2 separate regions of the Homo sapiens genome follow, and region 1 is linked to region 2. Evidence: fine-mapped expression QTL. A gene starts in region 2. The other region holds a variant in brackets. All regions are shown on one strand. Distances are from middle to middle. Region 1 overlaps LINC02268 (long intergenic non-protein coding RNA 2268). Region 2 holds the start of LINC02268 (long intergenic non-protein coding RNA 2268).

Region 1 (16,252 bases), 100 kb after region 2:
TTAGGAAGTGGTATCTACCTGGCACGGTATATTTTAGACCCAAATACACTGGTGTTAACTGAAACTTTAAAAAGCAAATGTTTCTTTTACAAAATTTTTGTTTTGAAATATTTTCAACTGAAGACAAAAGTAGAGAGAGTAGAACAATGAATCACATTTAATACCTTTTCCAGATTATGCAGTTAAGATTTTGCTACATTTGTTTTATCTATTTTTTTTAGTTGACGTTTAAAAAGAACTCAGTAATTATATCACTTTACCCCTCCATACTAATGCATATGGGTATAAGCACAATCTAACCAAATAAAAAGAAGAGTAATATCATATCTTTTAATATGCAGTCCATAATCAAATTTACCTGTCTGAAAAATGGCTGGAAATACAATTCATACAAGAACGGTGCAAAGGTAATTTATACATTTAAGTCAGCTTAAATCTTGATTTTCATATTTTAACAATGAAGATTTGGTGCTCTAGTTATTTCCTATGCTGCCTACAGGTTGTTTTGAGTTGTTTGGTTTTTCATTTATTTGCAGTATTACAGAAACATAAACTTTTAAAATGTATATGTATTCAATGTGTATTAATTGATTTCATTTACTTTTTTGATGCCCATGTTGTCCCAATTTTGGCCATTGGAAGCAGTTTTTCTTAATTAATGCTTATTATCTGAATATTTTCCTTTAATACAGATGGTGTGAATGTAAAATACAAAGCATTGTATATGACTACCATAGAACTTGGTTAAAGAAGAAACAGTGGGCTGGGCGCAGTGGCTCACGGCTGTAATCCCAGCGCTTTGGGAGGCCGAGGCAGGCGGATCACGAGGTCAGGAGTTCGAAACCAGCCTGGCCAGCATGGTGAAACCCCATCTCTACTAAAAATATAAAAATTAGCTGGGCGTGACGGCACACGCCTATAGTTCCAGATACTCCAGGGGCTGAGGCAGGAAAATCACTTGAACCCAGGAGGCGGAGTTTGTGGTGAGCCGAGATGGCACCACTGGCTCTCCAGCCTGGGCGACAGAGTGAGACTCCATCTCCAAAAAAAAAAAAAAAAATAAAAGAAGAAACAAGAAACAGTATGTTCCCCATGATCCACACATGATCCCAAACAATTTGTGATCATTATTTCAGCTTCAAAACTTTGTTAAGATTTTGATTAAAATTAAATAGTTCGGGCAGATAAAATAACCAATTTAAAATACTTTTGGATATTGTTACATTTGACAGTTCTAAGCTTTGTTAAGAAAATTTCCTACAAGATCTGATGTTCAATTTTTCCTAAAAAAAAATGGTGAGCTTCTATGTCTACAATCATGTCAGATGTTCTATACGAATCCCTTCTTTTGACCAAAGCTGCTAGTCTAGATATTCATTTTAGATAATCATTGTTTGATAAATCTATAAGAAGTAGAACGTGAAACCAAATTAAGCACAAAGGCCTGTGTAACTGGAGCCTCACCTTGCACTCTAAAAGTATAATTCATTTACTCCAAACAGTCCTCCTAATTCAGATACGCAAGATCCCCACTTTCTAAGTAACAGAAAGTTCATAAATCCACTCAAATCCCATCCCAGTTTCCAAGCCTTCCCTGTTAGCTGCCGAGTTCCATCGTAACTCTGATTGTCAATGGCAGTGGAGGGTAAAGGGCAGCTTAGTGGAGGTGTGTCTAAATCATGAGAGCCGGGTGTGGCTCCCAACTCCCCACATTGCCAGCATTCTGCCGCTCCCTGTAGAAACTCATCTTCAGAAGGTGAGATGCTCATTTCTTAACCTGATGTTCCATGAAAGGCATGCTAGGTTATGAGGCTAGGGCCCTGTGGTGTAAAGCTTTTTCAATTTCCTCTTGGCTGACAGTACAGATTTTGATGGGGGCAGGCCAGTGGCCCTAGGCACTGAGACACCTTTCTTGGTAGAAAGGATCACCTCCGCAGTTGTGGGGCTCCTCAGAGATCAGCAGCAGCTGAGTGTCTCCAGCAGGAGGTGTGGGTTACAGGAAAGTGGAAGGGGTGCTGCCAGCAGGGCAGCGTGTTCTCTGAGGTTTGGGAATGGAACTGTAGAGGCTGGGGGTGAGAGTGGACTGTGCTGGCTCTCTGATCTCTCGGCTCCTGATGGAACCAGAACAGCCCCAATTGCCATGGGTCTTCCAATAAGGTTATTTCCTTAGTTGCAAGTTCAGGTGAAGGGCTAATGCTTTCTGTGAGGCATGAATCCAAAAGGTTACAACTCCTGGTGATCAGCTTAAATTCACGACCATATTTCAGGTCACAAACTGGGCTCAGGGGTGCAGTGACTCCATATACTAATCTACGTCAGTCCCCCACAGACCCAAAGCCAACATCCCTGATGTCTCCTTGCTGATCAACTTAAAAAGTGGTGAGGAAGCATGGATTTTAAATGAGCATGATATAAAGTAGCTTGTTACACACTGCTTGAGGCTACTTGCCTTATACCTATTTTTCTAAGGAAGGTGAACCATCAGTACTGCAAACTGGAAAAACAGAACTATGAAAATTAAACTTCAAGGCAACATATTACAGCTATAATGCATGCTTTTCCCTTCACTAATTGAAATTTGACAAGCAATAGCAGATTTAGGGGGTAGATAGTGCTGCCTTTGTAACATTCTTTTATATCATTTCAGAGAATCATAAAGACTAAAGGTTAAAATGGAGAATTTAAAGGTTCTTTTCCATTTAAAATACTGGGGCAAAATGATATTTGTTCTTCAGGTCTAACATACACTCCATTTTATTTATTCAAAGATTAAAAATAGCTTTTCTAAATCAGGTAGTTGAATCATATGAAATTGCTGTTTTTGTAAGGCAAAAATAGTTAAATTGTGGCAATTTCATAGTTCAACTCACATATGGACACCATATTTATTTACTAGCCCAAAAGTTATGAATACATGGTTTGATGCCATCTTTTTCTTAATAAAGCTTACTTGAATTTATTTAATTAAATGAAAGTTTAAAATAAAACATTTTATTAAAAGATGACATTATATAAAAATAAAAGAAAAATACATCTGATATATATCAGCCATAATATGTGACTCATTTAGGTGCTGTTGAAATTGATGGCCTATTGTGCTGTTTTTCATTATTTGGAGGACTCGGCAGCTCAGTGAAGCTCCATTCTTTTCAGTGATTTCAAATATTTCTTGGCATGTCTCTGCAAAACTCATTTTTACGGTTCTATCAGGCCCTGGTGACTTTTTGACCCTTCTCACTACCTCTGATTGTAAAATTAATGAGCAATTACTTTTGATCATTGGATTCTTAACAGGCACTGAAAGGGAAAGGTGTCTATTTTTTCATGTTTGGGATCTTGATTTTCTCTCAATGAAAATTGTTGATTATCTTCAACCATACCAACCATAGATGCTTATACTTTGTTTCATTCAGAAAACAATTTTTCATGATGTCATGATTTGGAGGAGTAGCATTTCTTAAAAAGGGTATTGTATGGCTAAGGTTTCCAAAGTTTCTATTCCTTCTCTTAATTACTCCATTCAAGGCTGTTTTTTTTCCTACCTGAATCTAGGCCAGGAGGTATTGTGGTCAGTTTTACAGAGCACTAGATGAGTGTTGCCCAATGTAGCTGTGTGCGGTGATGAAAATGTTCTTCATCTTTGCTGCCCAGTACAGTAGCCATGAGCCACATGTGGCTACTAAGCACTTGAAATATGGCTTGAGTGAATGAGGAACTAAATTTTTCATTTCATTTCATTAATTTAAATTTATATTCATATAGTCACATGTAACACAGCAAAATGCACAAGGCAAAAAAGTGAGGATCCCTCTAAGTGCAATCAACTACGTCCACTGGCTTCGGAATTGACTGTATGTGAAAAAATACAGTGGGAGAAGTAAGTACCCTCTGATCTATTGTCAGAGGGGCTTATGCTCCCAGTTTTCTACTCAGTTTATTTACCTTCAAAACGTTTCTGACTATGAAGGATTCATTTTAATATCTGGTCAGAAAAGGGCATGATTCATTTGACTGGAACATGTGAAACTCAACAGAATGTAAGAGCGTAAATTGTAAAGGAGTAGTACTGACTTAGAAAAGAGATGTTATGCATATCATCGGCCTTGATTTCATTATCTAAAATGCAATGGTTGGCTTAAATGGCTTTTAATGTTTCTTCTAACTGTAAGATATAGTGTATTAGAATGAGATAGTAGAGTCAGTTACCTGCCTGTTCTCTTCCTTAGTATACTCTCTGCATGCTCCAGCAACTCTACCCCAAATAGAGAATAGATTGAAAGGATCTATTCCTTTCAAGCCTGGAGGCAAGAGGACCATCTAAGGTGCTGGGCAATAACATGTGTGAAAGAATTTTGGGGATGGGGGCGTTGAACTAGGAAACTGTGGCAAAGGGGATGGTATTAAGTGGAAAGACTCAGGAAATGTTTAGGAGATGGGTAAGCAGGACTTGTGAAGGGTTTGGTGTTTAGGCAGGGATGGGAAGAGTAAAGAGGAGAGATAAATATGCCACTATGTTTCTGGCTTGTTCAATTTTATGAATGGTAATGCCATTTAAATATTGGAGGAAGTGCAGATTCTGAGGAGGGAAATAACAAAATTTTGCTTTAGAGATCTTAATTTTTGGGTATCTGTTGAAGATAGAGAAAGAGAAAATTCTAGGATGGAGACACAGATTTAGGATTTATTAGCATGTTAAGATGGTATGCAAAGCATTAAGCATCAGTGGACTTACATAAGGAGAGAAGAGAGAGACAAGTGAGAAGAAAGCTGAGTGCAGGAACACTAGCAAGGAAGAGATGCATGCAGAAGGAAACTCCTAAAAAGGAGCTGAGAAGAAGGGGATGGAGAAATAGGAGGCAGAAAAGTGAGATTGGTGAGGAGTCCATCGTAGTCAGGAGTTAAATAACATTCTCAAGCTTCTGTCTTGGAGGCTTCATTTTTGTTCCCCCAACCAAGATTAAGAATAAGCGGGGGAGGAAGGGGACATGGATGGGATGTAGAAAATTAGTGCTTTGTTTTGGACTCATCAAGCTCCAGGTTTGTGAGACATACAAATAGAGCCATGAATATTTGGATCCCCAGATAAAATGAATCTTGGTCCTATAGTAAAAAATATGGCGAAATATACCCTTGATTTAAAAATATTTTGTTGGGACCTTACCATGACATTCTTTACATTGTCTGGAATATCGTATCTATCTCTATTGTCACATTTCTTAAGTTATCTTGAGTAAAACTACAATCCCTCTCACATAAATAGATACACATACTAACAAACAAACAACCAAAACACACTCCTGGTGAAGCACAGAAAATGTTTTTCTTTGTAGAAGCTGAAATCAGGAACTTGGGGTCTGACAGATCCAGGTTTGAGTACCAGCTCTGCCACTTACATACAGAGTGACCTTGGGCAAGTCAGTCCCTCCAGTCCAGGCTAGTAATATTCAATATTACAGGGTGTTTGTGAGAATGAAATTAGGTGACATATGAAAATGATCTAGCATGGTAATTTGCACCTGATCAATGCTCGGTAAATAGTGACTATTATTATTATTTAAAAATCATCAGGCACAAAATTGTAATTCTTTACACTTGCCTTAATTACCTCCACATTTCATCATGACAGTTATATTTTCTACCACCCTGCTGCACTCTTTAAACTCCTTCCAGTATTAGCATCATTCTGTGCACAACAAACTCAAGAGTTTATCCACATGTACAATTTGTTTTGGGGAGAAATACTATCTGTGGATGACAGTGGAAGGTTAAGATTGCAGAGGAGATAGAAGGAAACAATAAATATCACCATGTCTTCGGCTTGTCTTCAAGCTGTGGACAATCCAATTGAGGAATCAACAAGTGCTCTTTCCTTTAAAGTTCTAAAAATATTTGACAAAGCAATGCATCCACAAGCAACCTAATGTCAGACAAGCTAGCTACTAGTTGGATAGAAAAGTGTGAAATGGCTCCCTTCCTTCCATATTAAACTTGCTGATGCCTTAATAAACACCACCCCCCAAGATTGCTGTTCATTCAGCTTTGTCTAGAAATCCAGTGACTGTAATCACTTCATTATTTCCTCCAACATCTGGAAGGATATGTGGATATAGACCATTATCAGAAAGATGATTTTACTGAAAAATAATCTTAATGTTTGCTTATTATAAAGATGCATAGAATCTGGAAAGTGCTGCCAAGTGTTTTTCCATCACAGCACCTTTTAGTTCAGAGAGTTCACTTCAAACAGAAGTCAAGGGGCCATTCTCCTGTTTTTTTCTACCCATCTGCCTACTCCATCCCTTGCTCCAAGGTCCTGGCTTCTGTTTAGTAACATGCTAAGGTCAAAGGCTCTGAGACTTTTATTCTTGGCTCCATTTATAGGAATAGATAAATTCATCCTAGGAACAAGCTCAGGTTGTCTTTGGAGATTTTTCCAGAGTGAACTATTCGAACAGTAAAAATATCAATGACAATGAAACAAACATCTTTCTCTAAATTTTACCATGTCTAATTGTTTAACTTCAGTGTGTCATTATGCTAAAAGTTCTTCCTTACTATGGGTGAAGAAGGGAAGGAATGAAGTGTTTGAAGGAAATTTAAAATTTTGTCCTGCCACATAATACGCTGGAAATGAAGGGAATAACATCCTCTGATTCTTGCCTCTGGCCTCACTGAAGAGACTTCCTAGCTGTTGCCCAGCTATCAGAAGTGTTTCATAACAGTATGAAAAGAATTTTGTTGTCCATACTCTAAAAAAAGCATGAGGAAAGCAATGTTTTGTAATAGTTCCAAATGAAGTAGAGGCTGCTCCCTTTGTGACACTCTACTATTGAGAATCCACAGCTCCTTAGCAATGAGACATAGGAGGAAGATAGACTCATCTGGTCCCAGTATTAATAATGCACTGTTTAAATTAACACAGTACATTCAGTTCAATCAA[G/A]GGTGTTAAAGTGCCTACTATATGCTAGTCATAGTAGTAAGTCCTAAGTTTAACAAAGAAAAGGTCCCTGCCTGCTGTAATTAACAGTCTAGTGAGATAGAAAGACAAGTAAACATATCATTTAAAGGCTTAAATAGAGGTGTTATAAGGTACTGCGTGAAAAAATGAAGTGTTTGGATATGTTTGTATGCATGTCTTTGGGGGAGGTTGGAGGCTTAAAGGATGTCTGGACAATGTTAAGAAGGGAGTTGAACAAAGAAACAAATACATTGATAAGCATGTTCTAGAAAATTCTCTCTCTTATATTTGTGAGTTTGCATCAGGGGAATGTCAGCAATATTTACCATGAATCTAATTGCCAGTCCCTCTGTGTGTTCATAGAATGCTAATGTGTGTACTATCCCATTCCTATGCTTGACCCATTTATTTTCTAATCTCCAGTTTGGAGAAGGAAATACTAATTTTACCCCAAGCATAATTTCATCTGTGACACACTGTGTTGTCAACAGTGAAGATGCAATCTGGGTAGAGAATATAACCTTAAGACAGTCTTCTTAGAGCAAATAAACATGTTCTTGCATTAACCACTTATTCTCTTTGGAGAGCTAATTACTCTTCCCTCAGCTGGCTGGGGCTGAGGGTGAGGGGCAAGGCTTTGCTGCAGAGAAAGTCAAATATCTGACTAAAAAGACTTTTCATCTATGTATCTGATACTTTTTAAACAATTTGCATCAGCTAAGTGTTATGGGTTTTCCATCACATTTGGAATAATGAAAATATTATGGCTGGGCACGGTGGCTTACACCTGTAATCCCAGCACTTTTGGAGGCCGAGGTGGGTGGATCACGAGGTCAGGAGTTCGAGACCAGCCTGGCCAACATGGTGAAACCCAGTCTCCACTAAAAATACAAAAAATTAGCCGGGCGTGGTGGTGGGCACCTGTAATTCCAGCCACTCGGGAGGCTGAGGCAGGGGAATCACTTGAAGCCAGGAGGCAGAGGTGGAAGTGAGCCAAGACTGCACCATTGCACTCCAGCCTAGGCAACAGTGTGAGACTCCATCTCAAAAAGTAAATAAATAAATACATAAAATAAAATAAATAAAAAAGAAAATCTTATATTTTAAGAAAATTTTATTTCTTTTTGAATTAAAACAAAATGTTCACACTTTAGTCGCTAAGTTACAAGGACAGATTAGTTAGTAGGAGATTATGTATTCTGGATAGCCCAGATTAATTGTTGCTTTTAATGCCCTTTCTAAATCTGATTCACAGATGTATATCATTATGGATGTATATTATTAGTGAGAGTGGGAGAAAGGGGCAATTATACTTCACAATGTCTGAAAAATATTGCTACATAATTCCAAACTATTTCTTTTTCTCTTGGAGGAATACTTTACTTGATTTCAAAGGGGAATTTGTGGACATTCACGTAAGTTAGAAAAATACATCACAAATATGCACCACTGCAGTTCACAGAAGTTAAGAATTGTAATCTAGGGACTCTCAGCAGCAGACATCCAATAATGCAAAGCAGTAATAAAGAAAGGCTTGCAATGAAGCACGGACTCTGTAAAATGTGACTGGAATGAGGCTGAAAGTGTAGAAGGCATGTTGTGTCATCCGGCGTTTAATCAGTGAAGATGGTGGCCTGACTTTGTCACAAGGAACTGCATTAGATAAGAGTACCCTGATTATGTGGTCTATTGCATACTTTGAAACATGGAATTGAAGAGCTAAGAGTTCATCTATTCTGGCCCTTTATGGAGGAAACTGAGCTCCAGGGTGGTTAAGTGACCTGGTCGAAAGAGAAGGAAAGATATCCTGCTTCTGACTTCAGGGCTCTTTAAAGTTCATCATATTTCTTAATGCCATTGGTGGATGAAAAATTAAAACATAGACCTGGTATTTACATTTTAACTACTGTGTAGTTTGCCAAATCAAGATTCCACTATGTTAATGAATTCATCTGATTTTCTAAAGAAAGGCAAAGTCGCTTTGTCGAGTTAAAAGGAATCAACTTAATTTCCGCCACTAGGTGGCATGATGCATTTTTTTTCCCCCTCTGGACACTTTTTGAAAAGGAATCTATCCCTCTCCCTACACCACACACACACACGCACGCACGCACACACACGCACGCACGCGCACACACACACGCGCACACACACGCACACGCCCGCGCACACACTCTCTCACACACACACAGAGATTGGAGAGAGACAGGAGAGAGACATGTTTTCATCTATCCTTTGTGGACTTCTGTTGTTTTTACTGCTGTGAAATTTGACTTGCGATATCTGCTTGTAAAACATCATCAAATCCAAATTCATTATATTCCACTTTTTCTATTACATGGTTTCTGCTTCACTGATTCATATCTGTTTTACCTATTCTGTAAGGGAGGAGAAGCTGCGTTAGGTTTCATCTCTTGTTTAAGTTCAGTTTAATAAATAGTAGATAATGCCTCTTCTCTTTTTTCCTTTTGAAGAGGAGAAAAAGGAAAGAATTGTAGTTGATTCTTATGTAGCAACTTATTCATTCATTCAGTAGCTATAGAAGCGAATTGTTTTGTAGGTAATTATTAACGATGCTTTGGATAATTCCCTAGCTAACTATTCCTTCTTTTCCATCCCAGAAAGCAATGAAGAGAAAAGCTGAAGTCAGTGATTAGGAGTGTCTGTGTAAGTAAAAGCAACAGGCAATTACTGAGTGTGGTGTGAGAGGCACGGAAAGATTGGGAATTCAGCAAGAAGAGGAATTGAAGTCAAACCTCACCTACTTCCCAGAGTCTTCTGGATTTTCTGTTAGAAGCTTCAGTATCTGAGGTAAGGAAAAGAAACTGCAGGACTTACAGAATATACCCTTTCCTTTCCATCCTCTGTATTACTTAATAGGTATTTTGCTTTGTTTTCATTTTTTCATTCCTCCTCTTATCTTCTGCCTTAATTTTCAACTCCATATTACTAAGTGGCATGGTTTTCAAGTTTTCTGTACAGTGTTTTACTATTTTAAATAAAAAAAAATTTTTAGTTTTAAATTGATTTATTTTTCTTTTAAAATTTTAGATTCAGGGGCTACACATGCAGGTTTCTGACATTGAACCCATCACCCAAATAGTGAACATAGTACCCAAAGGAAGTTTTGCAACCCTTGCCCTCTTCCTCCCTCCACACTTTTGAAGTCCCCAGAGTCTACTAAGAAACATCTTTTAGAAAGTAAACAAGCAAATACTTTTGTGGAAGAGCCAGACACTTCAAATGAATTTTGTTCTCAATCCCATCAACATGGGTTTTTAAAAACACTAATACACAGAATCACTCCTGACCAATGGATTCATCATCTCTGGGGCTGAAGGAGGGGCAATTGTATCTTTTCAAAGATCTCCAAAATATCTTGATGTACCCTGAGAATGGAGACTTTCTGAAATGCAGCAATATGCCATGTGTCATTTTTTTCCCTTTAACCAGCATCCTGGTCTTGCGCCATTTTCCTAGTGACTCATGCTTGAAACACAGCCATCTTGGTTCTCCCCTCTGTTGTTCTTGTGTGTAGTTAGTTCCTAAGTTCCGCGTCTTTCATCTCACTAATGTTTTATATCTTTCCACTTTGTCACATCGCCATTACCATCACCCCAATTCAAAGTTTCCCACCTTTCTCTTTTCAACACAGATGTATTTGACTTCTTTTTCCGATGTTTAAATTTACAATTTTTGTTACACTTTGGAATCGCAAAATAACAAGAGAAAAAACATTAGGAGAGGAGAAAGTGATATTATCATGAATAATAAAACTCTTGTTTCATGTGTAGCACAAATGAAAATCACCCCCAAATCTTTTTCTTCAAAAGGAAGGAAAATCAGCATCTGAGAGGGTTGAAAAATAAGTTCATTTTTTTCCCTTGCAAAGTTACTGAATTGCCACCTACTGGTTTTACTATAAGAGTAAGAGCTATATATCTCTTGTTCATCATTGTATCCCTGGGAAAAGCAAAATGTCTTGTTTTATTAATTAAAATTTTATTAGTTGCAAGTAACAGGAGCCATCCTGACATAGCTTATACAAAACAGGTAATGTATAGTTAAGCTATAGAGCACAGTGGTAGAATTCAGGCTGGTCTAAGGAAATAATTGCAGACAGGCCATGGAGAGGCTTCAGGGTTTTACGTTTTGGGGGTGCTTATTTTATTTTTCCTCTTTGCTCTATACTTTTTTGGGCTTCTTAGGTCAATGTGGCATTACATAGCTGCCAATGCTTTCAAGTAGGTAGAGTACAATTTCAGTCATGAGCTAGGATGAACTAGCTATTTCCTAGCAACTTGCCTGGGGACCGGATCTAACTGGCCCAGCTTGAGTGAGATAATGTACTCTGGTCAAGTCAGCCACAAGCTTAGGCACTGAGACTATTGTCGAAGGTCACCCCTTACGAATGGGGAGTTAATGTGAGCTGGGAAGATATCCCAAAGGTGTCTAATGCACTGACAAATGGCAAAGATGCAACAGATATTTTGGATAAATAAATGAATAAAATAATAAATGAATGAACCAAGAGACTGTTAGTTTTGGGTAGCATAATAAACTCAGATTGACAGATAAAGAGCAATTCATTAGGCATCTACTTATTACCAGAGGCTGTAAGGAATAAAAGCTGAAAAAAAAGAGGAGTTCCTGACTTTAAGGAACTTGTCAGAAGAGGTATCATTAACAAATAAGGAGAATATAGGCAGTGACAAGAAAAACACAAAATATTATGTATATTCTGTCAACTGAGAGATCATAATTTTACTTACATTAGTTAAGATATTGTCAGCTGCTGAGGAACTGAGAAATCTCAGTGGATAAACACAGTATAATATTTTATGCTATGTAAAGTTCAATAGGACGGAGGGCTGGGTTTGGGGTTTGGGGTGAACAGGAGGGCAGGATCTACCGCATGGAGCCATCAGGAACCCCAGAACTACCACCTCCAGCACGGACTTCCGCCACGATCATACTGCCAATCAAATGCAGCCAGCACAGTGAAAGGAAATACCCATACAGAGGGTATAACTACTTCTGCGGACAGCCCATTGGTCAGTCTACTTTCACATGGCCATACCTTACTAAAAAAGAAAGCCGGGGACTGTAATCTTGCCGCATCCAGGGAGAAAGGCAGTAGTGTTTTGGGAATTGCTAGCCAGTGACCACTATAGCAGCATTGTAGTTATGGCAGAGTGGGTGGGGGAGGAATAATTTTTAAAAAATTATGGAAGAAATGCTATAGTTAGACCATCTTTGAGGTGTAGGTCTTAACTGTTGGAAAGAGAACAGCAATTTTTGAAAGAAAAAAGTAATGTAGGCAAAGATCTGGAGTTGGGGAATAACTATGTTTTAGGAGTGTTGAATATGAAATAGCTGTCTTGAAAGTATGATAAGAACTGAAAAGGTAGTTATCTTTATTTGGCTATTTCTTTTGAACATATCTTTCTATTAACTTCAGCACATCAGTTTATTTTTCCAGGAAGTGGATTTTGGTTAAAAATTATGCTGATAAATAGTGAGGAGAAACAAAAGTTTGGAGGAAAAGTAATAAAAACTTGATATAAGTATCTATACTATTTCTTGTCTTCCTATTCTGACCTTCTGCATTCTAAATTGAAACAACCACTCTAATTTTCTTTGTAAAATATCAAGTTGGCTTGAAAATTGTGTGTAACAGCAATACAAATGTAGTTTTCAAAAGCGGGGTTTAAATCAATAAATATTAATATATTTTTATTTTTATTCCCTGCATCTCTTCTTTCTTAAATCAAATATATTCAGACTAATGTATTCATATGTTAATATTATTTTTTTCTGGGATGGCATTAATTTCAACTAAATATCTTAAGAGAGTAATGGGAGGGTTTTTTCCTTCTTGTTCAGAATTTCTTTTAAATCCGACATCTGGTATTTGGCACTTGACTTTTACTAGACCAATTGAGCACTTTTAAAGGGGAATAAATCATATGACTTTCATTTTAATTTTTACTGTAATGGTTTAATGCAGCCAACATATGCTGAGTAATAGTATTAAAATAAAATCAGTAAATGAGGGATTAAAATTTGCCTGAGTTCAGTTTTGCAAAGACACTAATTAGAGAAAGGTTTTTCAGATCAGAATTGGATAAGCCAGCAATTTTTTAAAATTGTAATAATATACTGAGAAATATTTGGGTTTGAGCATGCTGTTATTGAGAAGGAAAAATTACAAGGGAAATTAACACCTTTGCTCTAATGCGAGGCTGTGGGGTGAATCTGGGAACCCTTGCATGCCCGTTTCTCCACTGCCAGAAAGTATCCAGACAAACACTGAAGACCAATCCACATTTGCTTATTTTAAACAGAGATACTAACTTGAAAACTGGAAATATTTGAGTTGGACTAAGCAGGATGGAGATTTCTTGACATCATAAGGAGCATTCATTTAAATTTCTCATTTCAGAAACTTGAATACTAGAAAGGCTTTCTATCCCACGCCTTACTTTTTGGCAGCCAGCCAGTTATTTTCTATGGTTCTAGTTATTGGGGTACGAAACAGTTTGCAGAATTAAGTTAGAATTTTATTTATAGCTTTGAAACGTCTAGCTAAATGTTCCTAAATATGGTACTTCTTGGTAAACAAATAAAAGCGAAATTATTTCTACATCAAAATTGAGCAAGGAGAAAATTAATGGGCAGTATTTAGCAGTTTCTTTAAATTTCCTTCAGTTATGAATAGCATAAATAAGAAAATTAAATGGGTTAGTCTTACTACAGAGACCTTAATTCTAAATACTTTGGGTTCATATATATGACCAATTTAATTAAAGGAGGTTTTGACCAGCAACCTAAAACATGCCATATCATACTATAAGAAATGGGTTTTCTGACTTGTTAGATAATCTGGAAAGGTGTTGTTCTGATTAAAAGGATAAAAGGCTTTTCTGTTCTGTGAGGTATAAAAAGGAATTCTTTCAATATCATGAATAGAACCACTCATGTCACGTTCACTTAGTGGTTTTCAATAAATAAGGAACATGATTGGTTGCACTTTGCTATTTTTAGACATTCACTGTAGTATAATTTCTTTATATTACAGAAATCCAGAACAGGATAAATCAAATCACCGGTTCAGTGTGCTAAATTAGCATATTCAGCTCTTGAAGAATTTATGGAAAACGGCTTTCAAAATGCAAGCATGTCTTTGTTCTCTTATATTTCTTCAAACCAGTCTCTCATTCATTTCCAAATATCTAACATTTCAGATTCATTTTTGCTTTCATTTTTTGCTCTCTCCTTTTCTAGACAATGCCAAGCAGACTGGGTAATATAGGAGAAATCTCAAGAAGTACCATGAAGTAATGCTCATCTCAAGACTTCTGCTGTTTGCCAATTTTATTTCTTTTCTTCTTATTGAGATAGTAATTCCCACTATGAGATTCATTAGAAATCAGGCATTAAGGTTGGAGTCTTTCCTTAAAAGATATTAATATACACAATAAGAAAGGAGGTATTGAGGCTGGTGTGTTTCTTCTGTTTTTCAACTTCTTTTTTTTTTTTTTGAGACAGGGTCTCACTCTGTCATCCAGGTTGGAGTGCAGTGGCACAATCTTGGCTCACTGCAGCATCCTCCTCTCAGGCTCAAGCAATCCTCCCATCTCAGCCTCCCAAGTAGCTGGGACCATAGGCCTGCGCCACCACACCTGGCTACATTTTTTGTATTTTTGATAGAGACGGGGTTTCACCATGTTGAGCAGGCTGGTCTCAAACTCCTGAGCTCAAGCGATCCACCTGCCTCGGCCTCCCAAAGTGCTGGGTGTCTTTCAACTTTTCTATTACTTTTTGTTTGTATATTACTCTTGGTGAAACAAAAAAAATTGTAAATTGTAATATATGTTATTTGTCCTCAGGAGTTTATCATGAAACAATCTAGGAACAAACTAAAGCTAATAGTAAGTAGAGAAATTAAATAAAACCACCTAAAATAAATGTGATACAGATACTAGCCAGGACAAGGGGGTTCCGATGGGCAGAAGCGTATAAGTCCAATTTATGTGTAGAAGTCGCTTGAGTTGGGCCTTGGGTTATAGTATAAATCAAGAGTGGGTATCTTCAGATGTAATTGAATGGATGTAACAGAGGTAAAATTTCAAGTACCGTAATGACTAATATGGCAGTGACAAATTTTGGGGAGGCTAGGGTACCACCTTAAGTGTGCCAAGTCATGAAGGAAATGCTTAAGTTTGCTTAGCATCTTTCCGAGACTCACACAAGGAGGATTTGGAAAGATGTCTAATACAACCAAAAGAGGAGAATCAAAAGATCAACAATGATTGCTTTAAAATGTTGGCTTCTGCCAGTGTTGCCCCAAGTATATTTATCCCTCTTCCTTTCTACTCCTCAATTTTCAGACACTTTGATGAAACAGAATAAAACTGTACTTTTTTTTTTAGATATTCCTATGCATTCTACTGCTTTAATCCCACCTAAGTAGAGATGTCCACAACAGAGAGAATGGAGCTGTCACATCGTTTCAACTGCCCAGGTAGTTCCTACTGGATGAATGGGATTGTCACCTTCACACCTGCTAGAGGCTTGGAGCATGCAAGAGTTTTTTTAAATGGCTTCACCTTTCTTATGAAAATGCAACCACTAGTACTCTTCCAATAAAAGCTTTTCTCAAGTGTGAGTATACACTTGGCATGGAATATTTTAGCTATTTTCTCTCTCAGGACTCATGTTTTATTACATAGCATTTAGTCTCAACATATGTGGATACATATTTTCTTTCTGATAGTTATTATGCTTTTGTTTCTTCATATTTGTTTTATTCTTGATTTGAAAAAATTAATTTCAGAGAAACCTCCAGACTACACGCAAGCCAGTGCAGGCATTTGATATCATGAAGCTATGAGAATTCCCAGTTATGGGAAGCCCTGATGTCATAAGAAAATTAGACCAGCTTAGCTCAGAACAGTTTCAATGAAATACATTCATTTCACACTGTATTAATATAATCCTTGTATTACTTCTTTTTATCAGTCTCACAAGTCTTAATTTTTCCAGTCAGATATAAATAAGACACAATGCAAAAGAAAGCTTAAAGAGGGAGAGGTGAGGAGATTCTTTGAGGCCAGGAGTTCTAGACCAGCAGGGCAATATAGTGAGACTCTGTCTCTTAAAAAAAAAAGAAGTAAAAATAACAAGAAAGCTTAAAGAATGGTAAATATCCCTTTAAAGTACATTTCTTCCTATGTCAGTCTCCAGGTTTTCTATCCTAGTTGTCACTTATTAACTCAGAGTGTTCATATT
Region 2 (16,252 bases):
CCCATCACATTGCCCTCCAGTGAGTTTCTTCCAAAGCCCATGTCATTTTCAGTCTTGCAGCCATTGAATAGTTTATTGTATCTCTATAATTCTCAACAATTATATATTTTATTTTCTCAATGTTTGTGAAATTAAGGGAAGGAGAGAAATACATATTTTTCCCTAAAAACTGATTGCAAAGTCTAATTTAGGCAATTGTGTTTGCAAAGGAGTTCATAGTTATTCATTTTCTTTCCCTTTGGAGTTTTTTGTTCTTACAGCATAAATTCTAAAAATATGTATTTCTCTCCTTCCTTTAATTAATCTTGGTACTATAATATATAGTATTTTCCTGGATGCCATCCAAAAAAGATTATGACCATTGTCAATAATAAGCCAGAGAAATGAAAAACTTGAATGAAACCAAGCTTATATTGGATTAGGTGAAATTCAATGCCTTGTAACAGCTCTCCCAGAGTGGCATTTATTACCATGATGGATTTGTATTGGTTCTGGGTCTGGTTCTTAGCCTCAGAAATCTGGTTTTGTCAGCACCCCTCAAGCACGTGTATTTTTCATGACATGATTTTAAATCCAGAACTAAAGGAAATGTTACAGTGATAACCTACTAAATGTGATCAGCACCTTCTCTCTCTCTGTTTACCAGCCTACAGTAAATTGATTGATGGGCATGGAGTCCGATCAAGGGGAGTTACCTGAATCAAATGCTTTGTGTTTTGCATCAGACTTAAATAGCCAAATGCACTCCTCAATAGAGATCATTTTGCACATTTAAAATTTGATAGCTGAAATCACTTTCTACTAGAAACTGCCAAGAATTGCTCCCATATTGCTTTTAATTTTATACTAAGTAGCATGGTGTTTTGCCCTTTCTTTCATCAGTTTCCCCTTTCTTTGACTCAGAATGTTTCTAATACTTCCACTTATTATTACATCAATTTATTAAAGTCTTAATGTAGCCAATCACGTTACAGGCAAGACCTGCTGTTCCAACATCATTCTGATGTACTTTGTGCTTTTCTCACTGTTTAAGGGAAATATCATTTCTCACATATTCAAGTTCAAATTTACCATAACCCCTAAGTACCTATGATACAACGATAAATTTAGAGCATTATTTTATATTACAGTGACATTTTAATTTTTAATATTTAAATAAGCATTTAAAGATGGCTTATGTTGTGCAAGAAAGGAACTTACTAGGTGTTGTGAAAGAGACAAAAATGAAGAAAACTACCCCTCATTATTAAGGACTTCAGTGGGAGGAAGGCAACCATAATACATCACATACAGTTCTGTAATACTTCATATATAGTATCACCACAATTTTTCAGAGGTCTGGAGGAGTTACGTGACTTTTGGAGGATCACATGACCATTTATAGGGACCAAGACAAACACTGACTCCCATGTGCCTTTTGTTTATTACTAACCTTAATGAATAGCAGAAGAAACGATGTTAAAAGATCTTTTTAAAAAAGTACTAGTATTTTAGAAAGAGTAGAGTAAGCAATTAATACCAACTGGCTTAGTGTGAAAGAATGAATGCTATTTCAGTAGGTATATTACCGACTGAGTTAATAACATGATCAAAGGCATGGAACCAAAAGCATATAAGGGTCATGAAATAGTGAATAATCTGCTAGAGTTGGAGGGTAAAGTGGGAGTGATGTGGAAGAAAAGCCTGGAAAATATAGTTTGAACAGACAGTAAGCTAAAATAGAGAGTCAGTACTTTATTGTGTAGGCAATTGGATATTTTTCAAGAAGAAAAGTATCATTTCTGATCTGTGTTTCAGAAAGATCTCTCTAATACATGAAGTAGAAATGCAATAGACTGTAGTCTAAGGAAATTAGTGAAGAGGCTACTATAATTACGCAAGTGAAATACAATGGAAATCTGAACTTTAGTACTGTCATTGGGAGTAGAAGTGATAGAAGCAAGATTTGAGATAAACTTTTGAAGTAAACCATTTTGGTGTACTACTGGCTGTTGGACGTGAAGATGAAGAAGTTAAAAACTACTCCAAATACTCTGAAGAAGGAGTTCTATTCTAGATGGAGGGAATGTCAGTGAAGGACACGTCTTCTTGGGTTGGGAGGAAGGTAGTGATGATGGGGAGGATGTAAGCAGGTGAGAATGAGTTCACTGTGGTCAATTTGAAGTATTCATAAGACAATTATGTGAAGGTATTCAGCTGTTAGTTGTATAGTGTTAAGATGGGAGATAAAGGCTAAGATACTGTTCTGGGAGAGTCCTCAGCATAGACATAGCAGAAGAAACTAGAGGAGTTGATATGCATTGTGATATTGTCATGAGCACTTAGCACAGTGCATGGCAAGCTGTAGGATCTAAATACGTGTTGTATGAACAAATTGATTTTGACAAGTGCTCTCAAATCAAGCATCCAAAAATCTCAAAGTACTTTAATAACATTCCTTGTATATAAAAAGTTACCATCCTGTCTCAATTTAAACAATCTTCCAGAATAAAAATTTTAAACTAAATAACCAAGGTGCACTCTGTTCAGAAAGGTTTCCTCCTGCCAGGACATGAAGTATTCTACTTAACAAATATTCTTTTTTAGCTGACAGACTGTATCTGACCCTTTAATTCGAAGTACCGAAAACTAAAACTTTAGCATGAAACCAAACCAAATTATATCTTACTCTGGTGATTAAGATGCATGCAAACCCAATCCTCAGCCAACCCCAAATGTTTCTTCTAGTCCTCAGAAACCCAGGTTTAGTTGTTTTCACACTTCACTGAGGTTTAGGATTGCAAGGCATCTTCTAAGTTTTGTCTCATTGCCCTTGATTCCTTGCTGTCTTATAATACAACTACAAGCCTCAAAAGAACCAAAACGAAGCTGTTCTCTTCCATCCTCACTGCCTTAGAATGTGTTGTGTTCTTAGCAGAAATGAGAAGAGGAGCCCTCTTCTTCTAGAGTTTAGGTGTAGTCTTGGAGACCCTCCTTACTCTCCTCCACTGATTCTGCCCTTGGCCCTCGGTGCCTAAGTTTCTCCTCTATGCCCTTCTCTGCATGCAAAACAAGCAGACATCTCTGGGTCACCAGCATCACCAATTTCTCAAACAGACCCACACTTAGCTTAGGACCACCCCAGTGCTCCTCAGCCTCTGCAGCCAGGCACCTGCCTCATAATTGGGGGACTATAGAGTTTATTGTCTAAACCAGGACACTTTTGAGAGTGCTAAAATGCTAAACCAGATGGTACTTCAGGACAAAAGGCATAAACTTAGGATGTGTGGTTACCCTACCCACGACTATAATACAATGTGATAAATGCAATAATAAAAGTTTAAACACTTTGCAATGGAGACATTTTGAATGTAACGCACCATGGGGTCAAAATTTGTTTCCAATCAAAAACATCACTAAATTATGTTCTAATCAGCATCCATGATAAAAACCATGGCGTTAAGCTTGGGATATTTGTATTATGCTGCACAGCAGAGCCCTGGCTCTGGGAGGAAATACTTTTCCAGCTTCTTGGGAATGTATTTTGTAGCTCAAAATTCCTGCAGGGGAGCTCATTTTGCAGTTTGGTCAATGCCATAAGGAAGCAAGTCTCAGAAATCTCTGAAAAAGTTGTAGAAATATTTCTTTGCAAAACTGATAATAAAAATCCAAATTATAGATCATATTTATCTTACATTTATTGTGCTAAGGGCTTTGTATTATTTAATTTATTTAGCCTGCAGAAGTATGCTCTGAGGAGATAAACATGACCATTTATAGAGGTCACAGGCTAGCGAGTCCTGGATCTACTGATTAATCTCGCTCTGTCTTTGCAGCCCTGAGAGGATAAGTGCTTTCCAAAGCAGAGGAGCAGTAAAGGCTGAGCCCGGGAGGCAGAAACAACATTGGTCCATGCACCATAAAATGTAAGCGCCATGAAAGAAGACACTGTTATATTCACTTCTCCATTCCCAGCACCTAAAAAAGCCACTAAAACATGATAAAGGTCAGGAAATATGTGAGGAAGGAAGGAACTCACAGAGGGAGATGGGTTTGGAAAAAAAAAAAAAAAGGCAGAAGCCGTATCTGGCAGGGCCTGGTAGGTAGTAGCAAAGAATCTGAATTCTATTTCAAGGGCAATAAAACATTACAGAAAGATTTTAAAAGAGGAGTCATGTGATGTGATGTATGTTTTTAAAACAATCATTCCTGACTGCTGCGTGAAGAGCGGGTAATAGGCTGGAGCAAGAGTGAAAGCCCGGAGTCCAGTTAGCAGGCATCTGAGGCTGTTCAGATGGAAGGTCATGAAGGCTTAGAACTGGGTGGCGGCAGTGGAGATACAGAGAACTGAGATGGTGCCATGGCTCATGCCTGTAATCCCAGGCCTTTGGGAGGCCGAGGTGGGAGAATTGCTTGAGCCCAGGAGTTCAAGACCAGGCTGGGCAACATAGTGAGACCCCCATCTCTACAAAAAATAAAAATATAAAAATGAGCTGGTTGTGGTAGTGCACACCTGTGGTCCCAGCTAGTCGGGAGGTTGAGGCGGGAGGATTGCTTGAGCCCGGGAGATTGAGGGTGCAGTGAGCTGAGATCACACTACTGCACCCCAGCCTGGGCGACAAAGGAAGACTGTGTCTCAAAAATAAATATATATATATATATCGCGAGAGAGAGAGAGAGAGAGAGAGAGAAAAGAGGGGAGGAGACGGGAGGGGAGGGGAGGGGAGAAGAGGGGAGGGGAGGGGAGAAAAGAGGAGAGAGGAGGGGAGAGGAGGGGAGGGGAGAAAAGAGGAGAGGGGAGGGGAGGGGAGGAGAGGGGAGGAGAGGGGAGGAGAGGGGAGGAGAGGGGAGGGGAGGAGAGGGGAAGGGAGGGGAGGGGAGGGGAGGGGAGGGGAGGGGAGGGGAGGGGAGGGGAGGAGAAGGGAGGGCCTGAGAACTCCTGGATTTTTGGCTTTAAAAACCGGACAGCTGCTAGTGCCCTTTACTGAAATGAGGAACACTGGGAAGGATAATGCTTAGAAAGAAATGCAAGGGAGTTTAGCCATTAATCTAGATAAATATAAAAACTAGTTAAGGATAAGATAACTGTTTATAATAACATATGAAGTAAAAACCCTAAATAAAATGTTTACAATAATTATAATTATGAAGAAAATGTATATTGAAAATTTTGAGTAGAAAATATGGTTACATGAAAACTTTGATGTATTGAGGAGTTATTGAGAAATTTGTGGTTTTAAAAAATTTTATTGAGTTCTGCTCTGCTTGTCATACTATTGTGAACTAAAAAGTAAAATTCTCGTAAAAGACAGTAAGTCTATGAGAAAAGCCTAAAATGATAGTAATCCAGAATAGAATTTCATCATAATAAAGTCATTAAAAAGTTGACATATTTTGTAATGGGAATTAAAAATAAAAACACTAAAAGCTCTATTTCTAGGTCCTGAAACCCAAAGCAGAATTATTGCAGTGAGGGTTGGGGGGAGGGTGGGTGAGATTTATTCCTTTGTTTAAACTAACTGAAGGTAAAATCCCTTTACATTTAAAATTGTATTAAGAATGGATTTTTTTTTTACTAGTAATACCTTGGCTTGATTACATTATGATCTATAAATACATTTTGTATGAATGACTTCTCCATGAAACAAATTGTAGTTATCAATCAGTAAATTTGTTAATTGAACTATGTGGAAGGCCCTGAGCTAAGCAGAACAGATATAAATTGGTGCTTGATTGTGTATTGAGAGGAATTGAGCCTGACTTAAAAGTTTTTCCCTAACTTCGAAAAATAGCTTCCCTACAACTCTGATAAATGGAAAACAACCACATCTATCAGAAACAACCCATATTTCCAATTTATGTATAAAATAATATATCCTTTGCTTATTCACAGCTGTTATCAAAACTCATGGCCAAATGTATAAACTCTGCTATGAGGCACACATTTTGAATGTGTTGAGAATTATCACAGCCAAAGTGAATATCTAAGGAGAAAAATTTCAGCTATAAACATTAAAATGTTAATGTTTTACTAATAATTATGTCCTTAGACACACAGTCTTGTTGGGGAGAACATTTTCACAAAGAAAAATATTTATCTCTAAAATCTCACTTTATTTATGTATTTTTAGAGAGTGGGGTCTTGCTATGCTTCCCAGGCTGCTCTTGACCTCCAGGGCTCAAGCAGTCCTCCTACCTTGGCCTCTCAAGTAGCTGGGACTACTGGTGAGTGCCACCATGCCTAGCTAATATCTCACTTTTGGATTAGAGGCTACTCATCTGAAAACAAAGATACAGATTTCATATGTTAGACAAGCACAGAAAAATCTCAAACTCTATATTTAAACAACCCTACAAGTGTTCTACATCCTGTATAAACCATTTTTCAAAGACGGAAAGATTTTTTTTCTTTAATCTCTTTGGGAGATCTAAAGATGCATAAAGATCCAATTTCATTGAGAGAAAGAACACAATTCTTTACCAAAGAAAAGGTGTGATTAAATGAAGTAATTGTGTTTCTTTGCTATAAATGTGAGATCTCACTTAAATGGTCTCTGAAAACAAAATACATGCATAAAGGCCCAATTTCACTGAGAAAAATATCACAATTCTTTTCCAAAGAAGAGGTCTGATTAAATGAAATAATTTTATTTCTTTGCTATAAATGTGAGATCTCACTTAAGTAGTCTCTGAAAATAAAATATATTCATAATTGCATGTATGTACATATGGGCATATGTGTTTGACTACTTATCAGCATGGATGTTATTGTAAGATGTTAGTGTTTTGGACACTAACCCCCCACATCAGCAAATCAAAGTGTGATATCTAAATTGATCTAGGTAAATTTGAATAAAATTGAACCAACGCTTTGTGGTCCTTCTGCAAAGCCAGATGTTCAGACCCTTAGGCAGATTTCATAATCCACACATCTGGGGGCACAGAGAAATATAGGGAGGAAAAGAGAAAAATCTCTTAAGGTAAGCTGGGGGATCTTGTAGATGGGCCACTAGGGAACACAGCTGGCTCTCTTCTTGAAGAGATGAGCCCCAAGCAAAGAATGCTTTGTAAAACTGAACACAGAGTGAATCCTGACCGTTAGCTATTAACTGTAGAGCTCAAAAAGAGACTTTACAAATATCATTACAAACAAAATATGGTGGAAATTTTCATAGAAAGCCACATTCTTTGTACCAAATTTTGCTCTGCAATAGGCAGTCACTTTTGCACACCTTGCCACCTAGTGGATAACCTGAAACCTACAGGATTTTTCCCCTTAATTTCCATGCTCTGCGGAAAAGTTCCCCAACTCTACCAAGGGAAGGTTATTTTGTTTGTTTTAGTCATTGGTGCTCCGAGAATTGTAGTAAACAGTCAACAAATAGTTGTTACATTAATAATAAACATTAAGTTGAGGCATACTTCATTTAAAAACTATTGTTATGGGGAATGTAATGGAAAAGATAGACAATATGATGTTGGCAAAATGTGTTTCCTAACTGAAATGAAAGTTTTGAATTATTTCAAAAGCAAATGCTGGGGGATCTATAGTTTCCTGTTAGAGATGTATCTACATAGCACATCAGGAAGAGGAGCCGGGCGCGGTGGCTCAGGCCTCTAATCTCTGCATTTTGGGAGGCCAAGGCAGGCGGATCACTTGAAGTCAGGAGTTCAAGACCAGCCTGGCCAAAATGGTGAAACCCCTGTCTCTACTAGAAACACCAAAATTAGCTGGTGTGGTGGTGGGCACCTTTAATCCCAGCTACTCAGAAGGCTGAGGCAGGAGAATCTCTTGAATCCGTGAAGTGGAGGCTGCAGTGAGCCGAGATCATGCCACTGCACTCCAGCCCGGGCAACTCCAGTCTGGTCAACAGAGTGAGACTCTGTCTCCAAACAAACAAACAAAAAACAAAACAAAAGCAAACAACAACAAAAAGAGATGTCATTATTGCTCTGTGTAGACAAATCATCCAGATAATTTAATTTAGCCATTGAGAGCCTACCCTTCTTTCTTCCAAGATATCCCAAATAAAACTAACTGTAAAAGCAAATATCCTTGCTCCTTTGTCTAGACACCATTGCTACTTTCATTCTTGCTTTGGGCTGTGATGCTTGCTACTCCCTTTTTCTGCTGTCCCAAATTATGAAGCCCTTTTATTCATTTAAAAAGAATACCTATGCATATGTATAAATATATATATATATTTTTCCTTTTTCTAAATAACATTTTATTCATTTTGACCATGTGACTCATTCGTATGGTCAATGAGCCCAAGGTGTTGATGACTCTTAAACATGTTTCTCCTAGCATAAATATTGGTGGCAAAAAGCAGAATAATGATCATAGTTTTGAAATAGAGAATACCATTAATGTCTTTGATTTTTGAAAATGATATTTTAAAAAACAAACATGACTATGTCGTGATACCTTAAAATTCAGGCTGAAAACAATTTATTAGGTAATCCACTTCAGGTTTCTTTTGCAGGAGGATTATTTTCCATTTTCTTATGGATTATTTTCCATTTTCTTGCTAAAATCAGCAAAACATATATACATATAACAATATACCACTAGTTCATTAAAAGAACTTATTCTTTTTGTTCTCAAATCAAGCTCATTTTAGATTGACAATATCTTAATGCATTTTAGGAATATATTGTCAAGATTAAAATCTTACTTTTTATTAGCTGAAGTTGTATATATTCATTATATAAAACTGACTTATGTTGCATAGAATTAAAACCCTCCCCAGAGTTCATAGTTTTAAACAAATATGCATACATATCCAAATACATATTAAATCCAAAGCAAACAATAACTTTATGTTGACAGTGAAAAATGCAACCTTACATACATAGTCTACAAAACAACTGAAAAATTTTAAATGCCAGATATGAGGAAGCCAAAGAATTTTAACAATGAGAAATATGTTATGAATTAAAATATTCAATCTTGAAAACCTTTAAAAGTGAAAGTTGCACTGTAACTGCTTTCTAAGGTAATTTTTGCCACTTTTAGGAAAAAAGATGTTTACGTAACATTTTTAAAAGTACAATCATTTCTTACATAGCTTTATGATTGAGGATAACATTAGTATGCACATACAACATAACACACAAAAGCAAAGCTTAGAATAACATTTTAATTATGTTTTAGTGTATGTGAAATAATTTGTTTTTCTCAATTATATTCCTGGGTCAAGGCCTAAAACATTTATTTGAACCAGCTATATATCTTATTTTCATAAGGGTCTCAGGAGGCAGTAGTCATATGTTGTTACTTCAGCCCTCCACAAAGGCAATACAGTACAGATCTCTGTACTGTAAACGACAACAAGGACCAGTCACAATTTCAGTTCTTGTTACATTGATAAGACTCCTTCAGGTAAGAGATTAAAACATGCCTTTATTATTATAAGGTTAGTGACCATTTTAATGGAATAAAAAGATTATTCCTGTTGCATTGGAGATAGGAAATTTGGGATGTGAATGTATGAGGTAGGTGTCTTTTCTCTCTTGTGCCTGTATTGTTCAAAAGCTCTTTGACATTAGAAAAAGGTTAGCTCTATAATCTTAATATTAATATTTAGTATAAAATCTATGGAGAACACACATTATACAGGGAGCCAAAAAGTTCAACTCTTTTTTTAATGGAGAGAAGGTAAGTAGGTGATCTTCACAGACTAAGAGGTTTTGCCTTTTAACACCAACAACATAATACTATTTATATTTGCTCTATCATTGTGATTAACCTACCTTCCCCTTCCAAAAAAACACACTTAGCTTACTCACCTAACAGTAATGACATATATCATTTTAAAAACAAAGAATAGTTTCAAAATTAATTTTTTCTACCTAATGTGCGTGACTGATGTTGAAAAGTTAGTGAGGGTTACCCATATATTCACACATGTAAATTGTGGAAATAAGAGAGAGAGAAAAAACTCAACAGATATAATCTGTAAAGCTGTCAAAAGACTTTCAAATAGCGAATTCCTTCAGATCATATATTTCAATAGAAGTTGCTGTTTAAATAGAGGTCTCTCATTTGGTGGGAGGAGCTTTTAAAAGAAAAAATACTTGAAGATAAGTAATATTACCTTTGCCATTTGTTATGAAATAAATATATCATGAGGAGTTATGCTTCATTAAAATGTAATACTTATAGATGACAGTTTCATATGGTCAGATATAAAATGTATATATGTTTTACCAGGAAGATTATACAGTATTTTTAATCTTGATTTTTCATGACTTCTTGCAAATATGCATTTATTGCTTTCCAAACCATGCCTGGGAATGAAGGAGAAAAAATTGTTTTATCCGAAGAGTTAGCTGTTCTTCCTTGGTTCAATCAGGAGTAAGTTCTGATATCATAGAGGGGAATGTATTAAGATAATTCCTAAAATATAACTGTGCTTTTACTGTTTTGCCTATGCTGCCAGAAAGTTAAAAACATTTTGTTTCAAATAACTGTGTATGTTTAAAAGTCAAACCTATTATTTGCTATATTATTTGTCATGTGCTATAATTTGACAGAGGGGCAATATTTCTCCAAAAAGTAAAATTTTATAACCAAAGGCCATCAATTGTACAAACGACTAAGAGAATTAAATTTTATTAAGTTGGAAATGTAATTTATTCATTGTAACTGTTTTAAGAGAAATTAAGTGAGCACTTTGTATGTAGTTATCTTAAATGTTACGTGTATTCTTTTAGAAACTCTTTCTTGTTTTCCTTCTTTTCACCTTCAGTGTCCTGGCACGCGACTAGCACAAATCAAACCTTATCTGTCATAATAAACTATAGCGTTGGAAATTCTAAAGAGACTAAAAATTACTTAACGTCTTTAACATATTTGAAGTAATATTTATGAATAAGGGAGGGCTGTCCATTTTTGAGTTTCGTCGCGCCAATGGTTGAGGGATTTTCTCATTATCATCTCCTGATTCCCAGAGAAGAAAGCCAGCCGCGTGGCCTTAGGACCCCTGGCCACCGGGAGTGGAGGAGCGGAGGGTCTGCCCCAGCTACCCCTGTGGCCACCGCCTCTCCCTCCAGGTGTGTGTGGGGAGGGGGCTGACAGAAGCAGGAGGCGACTTGCTGAAGTAGGGAGGCCAGACTGAATTTTTCCAGGATTCCGGGACCTTATCTCTAGGAAGCACTTAAGGACTTACTATCGCATTCTTTATCTCACTGTCTTCCGACTGCCAGGCTGGGTGCCCAAACTTTGGCGGCTTTTTCACAGTTTCAACGGCAAGGGTGGGAGTGGGGCTCGGGAGCTGGAGAGGAATGGCACGTTACGCCCCGTTCGGTTTCAAGGCCATGATTGCATCGCTCTCTGGAACGAAGATGGCCAGGAATTCGGGCAGGGAGAGGAACCACTCAATGGCAAAGTTGGTAGTAACGTCGTGAATTGTAAAGAGGGATAGCCCTCTCCTGCAGTCTCCAAGCAAAACCTTTTTCGCAACATGGGTGCCTGTCCAGCTTAATTCTTTGCTATCTTTCTTACTCGTGTTTTTGTTAGGGGACCGTTATAAAGTGAATTTTTGAACTGCTGGGTTGAGAAATAAACAGGGAAGGAACTGGGAAGATTCAAATTAGCTTCCACCGACCCTATTAGAGGTCCCTGGGCAGGAACCCCCCTGGCCACAAAATGTCCCGCAGGAGGTCTGCCTGGCGGAGGCGCTGCCTGGCGGAGGCGTGGGCTCAACCGAGTGGGCGCTACCACCGCTGGCTTCGGAGAAGCAGCCTGCGGAGAGCGGTAAACCGCAAGGGAAGCGCTTCAGGATCTGATTGCTTTTTAATAAAAAGATATGTTTGTAACCAGATGGAACCATTCTGGCTCCTTTATCGAGAGCGCAGCTTGGCCGCTTGCCTGGCCCTGGGGCTCTGGCCACAGCCTCTGCTGGGTTCTGGAGGAATTCAGATCTAAAAATAAATGATCGGGGATAATTCTTCCCCGAGGCGAACGGCTCGAACTCCCCTCCTCCACCCGCCACTGTCACAGCAATTCACCTTGAACTCTAAGGCGGATCGTTCCCACCTCCGCTCAAGGGGCCTGGACGCGGCGGTGGCTTTGCAGCCTCCTGCACCCGGAGCTCTGCTGGGCATGCTGCAGCCAGGACCCGCACCAGACTGCTCCAGGCGCCCTTAGGGTCCTGCCGGCTGGGTGGAAGTCAACACACTTTCAGTTAACCGAGGGGATTGAAATTGGATCCAATGAGGGAGGAAAAGCTGAAATCCCTGCTCTCTGGAGCTGTAGAGCACCAGGTGGGGAGACATTGCAGGTCAGAGGATAAGTCCTCTGCATTAACTGCGGCGCAGTTCCCTGTACGTCTAGCAAACTAGGTTTATGGTCTACGTGGGTCACAAGCGCATAAATCATTGTCAGCCCCGACAGTAGGTGCAGAGCTCTCTGCCTCGCTCTGGCCACACCAGCCTTTAGACAGGCTAACTGAGGGGGGGGCTCGGCGCGAAATTTCCCAGCCTAGAATATTTGCCTCGAATCTTTCTGTCCAAGTCTCCGAGACAGCTCCAGAATATGCGCTTGCCCTTTTGATAGACCCGCAAAGGGCGCGGTCTGGCAACCAAGCGCATCTGTTCACTATGGCCTAATGATTGTCCTGCAGTCAAAGAATCCAAGAGGGCATCATCTGATCTTATTTTATGCGTGAGGAAACCTGACGCTATCCAGGTTAAAGTGACATTGCACGAGGTCACACAAAGCTCTGGTAAAACTCCTTGATCCTAGGTTTCTTGATTCTCGCTCTCACACCTGGCCCCATCCATCGTCCTGCCTCAAATATCCACTGTGTTGTAGAGATACCAGGATCTGAGAATGCCTGTAGAGAAGGACTCATTATTTGTTGTCTTTGCAATTTACTAGTACAATTTTCAATATGATAATTTCCAAAGTCCCAGGAATGTACTTCAGATCTTCTTCCTCATTCTACCTCACAATTCACATAGGAGGAACCCCAGTGGCAGCCAGATATCGGGGTTTTAGACACCCAGCTGCTTCAGCCACTGAGCCCTGGGTTACCAGCACTTAAACAAGTCAAGAAAAGGAATTCCTCGCTGAGCCGGGAGGACTGGGAGAGATGGGGGCTCGGACTTAGAGAAACGCTGGAGAGAGACGAGTGGTCAGGCAATCAACTTTCACCTTCTCACAAGCTATTAGTAAAGGGACTGTTTTTTGTCCAGCAAACTCTCCCCTCAGGCATGCAGGGCTTGATGTTATCGTGATTACTTTTCGCTATTCACATTAATTATTTTAAGACAACACACACACACACACACACACACACACCTTCTCACTTAGAGTCAATGCCAACTTGAGCCATTTCAAATCGTTAGTCCTCTTTGTGAATGTGTTTGCATTTTTAAATCTGGGTTAGAAATTTGGCAGTCCCTCAATTATTCCTGAAGTGAAAAGGCCACAAAGTGGTCTCTTCCCTTCTTTTTTTCATTCAACTCTCTCTCTCTCTCTGTCTCTCTTTCTCTCTCTCTGTCCAGGAGTTGAAAAGAGAAACTCCAACCTTCAACTGTCAACTGTTTTCCAAACATCAGATTAATGTTCCCCAGGACTCGGTAGTAACGTGACCTTTCTGTTTTCAGATGTGTTTTTCAACATGTAATCGTTTGTTTGTTATGTCTCTCATATGGAATAAAGAAAGCTGGGGGAAGGAGTGTGGGCTGCCAGAGGCAGGAAAAAAAAAAAAAAAAAAAAGGATGTGGAGGCTGTTTTTGTTCCTTCTTCAAAATGCTCGAATCATTTTATTTTTAGGCAAGTAGTCCCCAAGGGAGGAAAATCTACAATACTCGTCCTGAAAAGAAATCCAAGCACTTGATGAGCAATTATTTAAACATAAACATCCCCAAAACAAAAATCTAATAAATTGATTTTAAAAAACATCTTGCAGGAGAGGAATTTCTGGGATGCAGGTAACGCTCTTTATCTTGATCTAAGAAATTCCATAAGAAGGTTTTAAAAAATAATTTATCAAACTTTTCATTTATGCCTCATGCCCGTTTTTGGACGGTTACACTTAAATTACCATTTTTTTTTTAATTTGAGAAAGGAAACCTCTAACGTGTGTATATTACTATATTCTACATCTTAGTTCTAATAAATTTCCAAACCAATATATTTATTAAACGATTAAGAACTTTGCCACTAACTTGTTTTCTGAGTAATAGGTTCTGAATCAAAGTGAAAACAGTATACTTGAATTAGTTATTCGAAAACCAGCATAATTATTTCATCACTTTCTAATATAGTAAAATGTCAAATATGCAATGAGTTTAAAGTTTGTTTTACGAAACCCCAAAGAAACCAAATAGTTATTTTGTTAAAAACAAAAGCTTTATACTTAAAAAAGAAAAAGTATTAAGTTGGTGCAAAAGTAAATGCGGTTTGTGTCATTTGAAAGTAATGGCAGAAACCGCAATTACTTTTGCACCAACCTAATATTAACTTTTTTTTGAGACTAACTCTTATTAGAAAACGTTTTATTCCAAAGAGGAATTTTAAAAAGCCATACTCAAAGGTGAATTTCTGCTACTAGAAAGATGCCAGTTTTAAACTCCTCCCCACCCCCATAAAATATTATTAGGCCGCTTTCATGGTTAGTGACTAAGCATTTTACCAAGAAACCAAAGACTAAATTGCTCCCCTCAATTAATCAACAGCTTTTATCTCCGGCATCAGCTTCACTAATGACCTCACTGCGGCCCTCCAATCCTTATTTTGTGCTTTCCCTTATCACCGTCTTCCAAATCACCCCAATATTTCTCCTGCCCCGTTCAAGTTAGAGGCATCATGATCCCCATCTAGAAAGCAATTTCCTGACGACTCGCTTAATTATCGCCCGCTCCCCCGCCCCCACCTTCCTAGCTCTACTTCCCTAATCGACCCTTTATCACCCGGGAACAATCGCTAAGCCTGAGCTGCCCACATGGAGGCTTCGCTGCTGCTTTACTTTACAGGCCCTTCCGCGGTTTTATGATTGGTTGCTGTGGTTGGAATGTTTATAGATAATAAACAACTAATCCATTTCTTGCCTAATGAATTGCCCCACCCGCGTACCAGTTTAACACCCGTAACTAGCTCCAGGATCAATCTGCGCCAGCGACCGAGGGGATGAGGGGGGCGAAACCACCCAGCCTCACTGCCGCTTAAAATCAAAGCCGAAGAACTCTAGGTCAGCAGACACCTATTTCCCATTTTCCAGTTCCTCTCCTCCGCGACCCCCCACCCTCAGCTAGGGCTCGGCGCCCACCTGCTCCTCTGCCCACGGTCGAAGGAGTGAATTTCAAAAGTGCTTTTCTTGGCTTCTAAAAATGTGAGAGGGCGATCCGCGAGCTTGGGCGCGCTGCCTGCGAGACTGGCGCGCCCACAGGAACCGGCACTCAGGTGACGGGCTGAAACTGGTGCCTGCAGCGACTGCTATTTTGGCCCAACCAGCCTCTTCAGGCTTCGGCGGTACACGCCCCGGGGGTAGTTACAGTCCTCCTGGCTCTGATGAGTCTCTGCCCGCGGAAGATCAAAAAGGCTGAGGTTGGCAAGGGCGTTCCTCCCGCACCCGACGGCTGAGAAGGAAGATGGGCAGGATAGGTAGTGGGGAGGGCACAATCTAGTTAACACTCGGAATCCTGTCTGAAATAAAGGAAAATGCATGTTCAGACTCCCAAGAGACCCGGAAAACGCGGAGGATCTGCCAAAAGCATTCCAAGAAGAGAAGAAACCAACGCCAGGGAGAGATTCTTTTATACACATTATGGCAGCTGCACATGGCTTCCGTCAGTAACTGGGGCCAGGGGGTGTGAGGACGGTGACCGGGAGCCAAGGAGAGGGCCACGGGAACCGAACACCGGAGTCCCTATGGTGTTGCGCTGTGGGAGTCCAATGTCTAGTCCTGGAGCCTCCGAGAGCGCGCTGGTGGTCCTTTGGGACCTTCCCTTTCGGTAAGGACCCAGAGGAGGGAAGTCGAATAGGAATGGAAACCCGAAAATCGCAGATAGGTTCGCTTACTAGAGCTGTTTCTAAAACCCACTTAACAGCCAGCTGAGCTTTCAGTGGAGAGACTTCCTTTACTTACACAGTAGTTTGAAAGTTCTGCAGTTTTGTGTTTATAGATTTAATTTTAGAAAGCTAATGTGTATGCCACCTTCCAACTGAGCCCCCTGTTCCAGGATATCTTCTTTCCAAGATCCCAGAGAAGGACCCTCAGAAGCACTCTCTGCGGCAACGCCCCCATCTTATTTACCTGTG

What was found. PIP is the estimated chance that this variant, and not a neighbour inherited with it, causes the effect.
Region 1: its variant is fine-mapped to the expression of LINC02268 in prefrontal cortex (BrainSeq, PIP 0.93).

The regions. Positions count from the first base shown.
Region 1 is chr4:174,113,414-174,129,665 of GRCh38, reverse strand. LINC02268 (long intergenic non-protein coding RNA 2268) reads left to right here. Exons shown (of 5, transcript NR_125896.1): 2 at 9,580-9,769. Among named protein-coding and RNA genes, the nearest start is that of LINC02268, 99 kb to the left of the region's middle. The variant G/A (reference allele first, on the strand shown) is at 6,941.
Region 2 is chr4:174,213,426-174,229,677 of GRCh38, reverse strand. It overlaps LINC02268 (long intergenic non-protein coding RNA 2268), which reads left to right and starts at 9,280. Exons shown (of 5, transcript NR_125896.1): 1 at 9,280-9,364. RefSeq lists enhancers at 14,542-15,202, 15,313-15,372.